Linked DNA regions of Homo sapiens. The protein of the gene in region 2 purifies or fractionates together with the protein of the main gene of each other region. This does not show direct contact. Each region holds a gene or a part of one and is shown on either strand. Other genes may lie near its edges.

Region 1 (2,987 bases), on a different chromosome or scaffold from region 2:
TCACTGAAATAAATTAATGGTTAAATACAGTACAGCATGTCCAGCGCCAGAGTACTGTGCAGCTGTAATCAGGGCTGAGGCTTGTAGACACTGAAATGAAACAGTCCCCAGTGAACATCATGTAGAAAAAAGTAAAATGTAGAACCATGGGAGGCCAAGGTGGGTGGATCACCTGAGGTCAGGAGTTTGAGACCAGCCTGGCCAACATGGTGAAACCCCGTCTCTACTAAAAACACAAAAATTAGCCGGGCGTGGTGGTGTGCCCCAGTAATCCCAGCTACTCAGGAGGCTGAGGCAGGAGAATCGCTTGAGCTTGGGAGGTGGAGGTTGCATTGAGCCGAGATCAAGCCACTACATGCCAGCCTGGGCGACAAAGTGAGACTCCATCTCAAAGAAAAAAAAAAAAAAAAGAATCCTGACTGACATGCACTTGGATATGTGTAAAGTCACTCTAAAAATAATTTTTTTAGTGGAATACTGGTTACTTTCAGGGAGAGAAACTGGGAGGCTGGGAACAGGGGTCAGAGGGAGACCTTTCACCAGGTCCCCTTTCATATTTCTAAATTTTAAACCATGTGCATTTAGTATTTATTCAAAAATTACCCTTAAATCAGCATTACCCCAATCGCCTCCAGTGAACCCCAAAACTACCTTATCTGTGTTTATTGCCAATCCTGACTGGACTGCGTTACTGTTCAATTCCAAAACTGAAATGTTTTTAAAAGTGACAGTATGGCAACATAACAACCCTACAGGCGCCTCACCACCAAACACGGGCTGGGGTGACAACCCTAGAGATGCCTCACCGCCAAGCAAGGGCTGGGGCAGGGCCAGGCTCGTGGGTGTGTACCTGCCGCCGCATGTACCTGCCGCCGCCTGTACCTGCCCCGCCTGGGTATGAAATGCACACCTGTCCACCAGGATCGCAGGCAGGGGCCACGGAGGCTGCCACGGAAGGACAGCTGTCACCTCGGACATCGCCTGCGGCTCCACAGACTCTCCTTGAAGCACAGGTCGAGGAGTCCCGAGCCCAGCGACCGCGCTTGGAGTCTGCGGAAGCCGCGCAGTTCAGCGGCAGAGATGCCACGGCCAGGGCCACCACACAGGCCGGGCCTGGGGAGAAAGCACAGCACTCCCACCTTCTCGTCCACCGTGAAGCGGTGATAGATCCCCGCGGGGAGCGTCACCATGTCTCCCTTCTCCATGAAGATCCGGATCCACTGGTCCTCCTTGTCCCTCACATCGAAGTACCCACTGCCATCCAGGATGTAGCGGATCTCATCGTCCAAGTGCAAATGCTCCTCGTAGAACATCTTAATCTAGTGCAGAAGGAACATTCCTGTGAGTCTACCAGAGACCTGTCACGCAAGCTCACACCCACCCACTCAGCAGCCTGAGCCTTTGGTGGGCCAGAGCTGAGGTGAATGGGACTTCTCTCCATAAAAATGAAACTACACTTGCTAAGAATTATTTTCCTAACAGTACAAGGGCCAGAGCTAGAATATTTTATGAAACCTGTCAACAAATGGGCAGTAACTGAAAGTGAACAGACCTGAAGCAAAGGTTCTGAACACTTCACACAGGCCAACTCACCCAACCCGCACGGCCCCACGAGGTGGCTGCTCTATCAGCCCCGTTTTACAGATGTGGAAATGGTGGCACAGAGAGGCTAAGTCACTGGCCCAACCTCACACAACGAGACTGCCCCAAAGACACCCTGGCCCCATGCTCACACCCACCCAGTGTGCTGCACACAGCAGTCATGAAATCACAACACACAGGGTGAGTGAGAAGCCAGTGGACATTGCAGGGAGGCAGGCACAGACTCCACAAGCATTTTCTATGTCTTCACATTGACTTTTGTGTATTTTTTTTTTTAGGTGGAGTCTCGCTCTGTTGCCCAGGCTGGAGTGCAGTGGCACAATCTCAGCTCACTGCAACCTCCGCCTCCCCGATTCAAGCGATTCTCGTGCCTCCCAAGTAGCTGGGATTACAGGTACCTACCACTATACCCAGCTAATTTTTGTATTCTCAGTAGAGATGGGGTTTCAACATGTTGGCCAGGCTGGTCTCAAACTCCTGACCTCAGGTCATCCACCTGCCTCGGCCTCCCACAGTGCTGGGATTCCAGGTGGAAGCCACCACGCCTGGTCTGACTTTTGTGTCTTTCTGAAAGTGTTTTCTTCCTAATATTTTATAATAAAAATATTCAAGTATGCAAAAACATTGAGAGTATTTTACAGTAAATATCCATACCCCCTTCACCAAGACTGTGCCCTTATAATCTGATTCTGCCTGCACTGTTCATATCTCCACACCTCCCGCTCCACACACACACACACACACACACACACACACACACACACACAGAGACAGGGTTTCACTCTGTTGCTCAGGCTGGAGTGCAGGGGCACAATCATGACTCACTACAGCCTCAAACTCTGGGGCTCAAGAGATCCTCCTGCCTCAGCCTTCCCAGTAGCTGGGACTACAGGCGTGCACTACCATACCTGGCTAATTTTTTAAAAAAATTTTTTCTAGAGACAGGGTCTTATTATGTTGCCCAGGCTAGTCTCAAACTCCAGGCCTCAAGTGATCCTCCTGCCTTGGCCTCCCAAAGCACTGGGATTACAGGCATGAGCCACTGCCCCCAGCCTACCTTGTTATGTGTTACAAAATCATAAATAAAATGAAAACAAGATTAGGAGGAAAACCTTAAATTTGAAATCAGTCTATTCATAGCCACACAGAAAGAAAAGACAAACGGAAATAGCTCTTTTTTTTTTTTTTTTTTTGAGACGGAATTTCACTCTTGTTGCCCAGGCTGGAGTGCAATGGCGCGATCTCGGCTCACTTCAACCTCCGCCTCCCAGGTTCAAGCAATTCTCTGCCTCAGCCTCCCAAGTAGCTGGGGTCACAGGCATGATCACCACACCCAGCTAATTTTATATTTTTAGTAGAGACGGGGTTTCTCCATGTTGGTCAGG
Region 2 (3,654 bases):
TAATATTTGTGTTGTATTGTTTGTTTGTTTATTTGAGACAGGGTCTCGCTCTGTCACCCAGGCTGGAGTGCAGTGGCACGATCTTGGCCTCCCAGGCTCAAGTGATCCTCCCACCTCAGTCTCCTAAGTAGCAGGGACTACAAACACGCACCACCAAGCCCAGCTAATTTTTTCATATTTGTTGTACAGAAAAGGTTTCACCATGTTGCCCAGGCTGGTCTCAAACTCCTAGGCTCAAGCAATCTGCCTGCCTGGGCCTCCCAAAGTGCCAGGATTACAGGTGTGAACCACTGTGCCTGGCCTGTACATTTTTCTGAAACTCCTTTAATTTGATAAGAGAATCTTGACACCTCACTCATATCAGCCCACTGAAAGGTGTCCCTGTATCATTTTTTTTTTAATGTAGTCTTTCCCTGTCCATTAAGCAAGTGAGGACAACTTTGGCAATGGGTTCTGTTATGCCCTGAGGTATAAGGTGTGTATTAGAAAATCTCACTGCACTAGTCACGTAAGTCAAATTGTGGGAATGCTGAAACGCCAAGGGAGGGGACCCCAGTATTTCCAGAAGGGAGGAATGCTTATCAGAAGCACATAACCTCCAGCCTTTGCTACTTTGTAGTAAAGCTACAAGAAAAGCCCAATCACAGTCTCTGAGTCCACCCCCACCTTCTTTCAGGGAAAAAAAAAAAAACCCACCTTTTTTTTGTATCAAAGCGTTTTACATTATCTGTCATTCATAACGATTTAGTGGCTGTGCAGTTACAAAGAAATAAAAGACTGTTCCACTCTCAAAAAGTGCATAGTTTAATGCTCTAATACGGATCCATTGAAAGAGGGCAGTTACACAAACCAAATACCAATAATACAACTGCATAAGCTAATAAAATGACTGTCCAACAAAAGCAGGTCCAACCCAATAACATCTCTGGCAGGTTTCTCTGCTCATATGCATGGACTCAATTAAAGCTTCTGTTCCACTTCCAGGTCACACCAACCACTCACTAGCTTTGAGATCTTAGATAGTTTACTTGACCTCATTAAGTACTACTTCATCCATAAAACAGGGATATGAGGACCCACCCACCTGATAGGAAAGTCAGAATAATTAAAGGAGACAGAGCATACACAGTGCTGGGTGCAGTGCCTGACATATGGGGCCAAATATATGTTAACCATTCCCATCATCATCATCATTGTGAAATTTTCAAGATGTTTCTCAGGCTTTATTCTGCCAACAGGTATAAAAAGTATCAAGTTTATAAAAGAAGACTATTCACGTGCATATTTCACCTCACTTTTGATTAATTCCTTTGTTGGGGTAAAAAATACATAAAAATTAAGTTCATTTTAGATAAAAACCTTTTTTTCTCAAAAATGTTATTTAAGCAGCATGCGTGTGATGTCTTTTAAGTTTTATGATGTTTTTACTCTGAATAACAAAAAAACCTGAAACACTGACATTTGCTTCTTCAAAGTTCCATGAATTTATTTTCACAAGGCACATGAAATATTTATGCTTTACTTTCACCACCAAAATCAATAAGCCATTTGGAAAAAATGGCCAAGGTCAGACACCAGGTTTCCAACTACAATAGATAGTTACCAAACCTGCTTAGAATGAGATGATTCTACAGCCCAAATCTCATTCAGTATCCTTTGGCCCATTCTTACTCTCAGAATAAAATATTTTTAAAAAGATTTTACAAGAACAAAAGTTCTGTTTTCTACACTTCTACACTCTAACAAGCCAGACAGATTCACGCTAATTGAACTGCAAGGCTTCTGAGAGTGGCTGAAAACAACATAAATGCTATATGTGTAAAACTAAGAGGTTGTACTCATTCAGAAAAAGGAAAGGAGGGTCTCAGCCAGGTTTGGTGGTGAGCATCTATAATTCCAGATACTCTGGAAGCTCAGGAAGGAAGAAGACTGCTTGAGCACAGGAGAGCAAGACCAGCCTGGTCAACATAGCAAAATCCCATCTCCAAAAAAAAAAAAAGAAAGAAAGAAAGAGAGAGAGAGAAAGAAAGAAAGAAAGAGGGTATCATAAAGAATGAGCTGAAGACCACGAAATTGCAACACATCTTAGTAGAGTACCATGGTGGCACAGATAACAGTTAAGGGAGAAAGTTTCAATGACAGACCTTGTGTGGCCAAAAGTGATTCTACAGAAACAAAATCAGTAAGCAAGGAAAGGTCAAACTGCGACAGAATTGATTTTTCAAGCAGAATGCAGGCAATACCGTATAGCCTTTTGGAAACATATGCCAACCAACAGCAAGACTTTTCAAACGGAAGCTGAGACGCTGTTCTGAGGGTAATTGTTTTTATTTTCTTTTTTGAAATGAAATGGATGTGAAGAAGAAAGAAACCTGAAAGAATATTCAACCAAATGTAAATAGTGATTATCAGTAGATGACAGGGATGATTCCTATATTTTAGTTATATATTTATTGTTTACCTTTTTCTAAATTTTCTAAAAATAAAAAAATTATATTTTTACTTACAAGCTTTTTTAAAAAAAACAAAATGAATGAGATCAGCCATCCACTTGTAAATATGGGATACTCTAGGTAATATCTGTAGATACATACGTCTTCCCCATTAGACTCAGGACCCTCGTGAATGACACCATAGATTATTGTTCCTGGGAACCCCAGTGTCTAGCACAGGGCCTAATATATGAGCTACATTTATTAAGAAACATTTGTTTAGCAAATGAATTCTGGATATGGCCAAAAACCCAAACAAGGTAACCCTGATCTATCCTCCAGATGGTACAAAAATGGCCAGGGTCTCCCACTAGCATCTGCCCGGGACTTCCCTGGGCAGCCTCCTTCCACAAATCGGCCCCCTGTTGGGGATGTGCTGATCAGCCAGAAAGATGCTATTAGCCTGCATTATAGCTTAATGTCCCTTGTTTTTAATATCTTCCAGCAAGTCCTTTGTCCTTACTCACCTAGCTCCTTTCCTTTTAGTATTGTCTACTGAATTGAGCCATGCTGTTTTGCCCAAATCTTGCTCTGAAAGAAGCTGTAAGAAACATGGCTAGGATGTTCTGTCTTGTATTTCTGCTAGAGATATCCAGGCCACTCCAATACTTTAAGAGAACCCACAGGAAAATCTGTCTCAGATCTCAATGCCATTAAAATAACTACTTTTCAGAGTAAGTGACACATTTTAATTTTATGAGCACTATGAATCTTGAGATTTTTCTCTCTGCTTGCAGCTGAGAGCCAAATCTACAGTGACCTTACTACACATGCAGGTCTGTCTGTAAGCTAGCTTTTCCTCTTGTTTCATCTTACTATTCTTCCCTTCCTCTAGATGACCATGCTTTATCTTTACTTTTTCCTCTCTCTCAGATCATGTGTATTTTTAGAAGTCCTTTTGGAATGAGGCAAGGTTTAAACAAACCAAAAAATTAAATACAACCCCAAAGCCCCCAATCCCATGCTGTCTTTGGAGATTTTTATCCATGCAGCTTGCCTGCAGGACAAGAAAGTAAAGCTCCACACCACTCTCCTTGCTGTCAACCAGGGGCTGACCTTTATGTGCATTTGTGACAAGAAAGTCTGTAGACCAGAGGCCCCTCCCTTTCGACTTCCTGACCACCAGCTCTAAAATACACATTTGACCGCCAGTGTGAATGGA

The links.
Region 1: the proteins of OSTF1 (region 2) and ADI1 purify together in Homo sapiens (affinity purification with mass spectrometry; one large-scale study listed by BioGRID and IntAct). This does not show direct contact.

The regions. Positions count from the first base shown.
Region 1 is NC_000002.12:3,499,675-3,502,661, forward strand, and holds part of ADI1 (acireductone dioxygenase), read right to left. Parts: intron 1,320-2,987; coding exon 1,140-1,319; intron 1-1,139. UniProt on the Homo sapiens protein: Catalyzes 2 different reactions between oxygen and the acireductone 1,2-dihydroxy-3-keto-5-methylthiopentene (DHK-MTPene) depending upon the metal bound in the active site.
Region 2 is NC_000009.12:75,091,410-75,095,063, reverse strand, and holds part of OSTF1 (osteoclast-stimulating factor 1), read right to left. Parts: intron 1-3,654.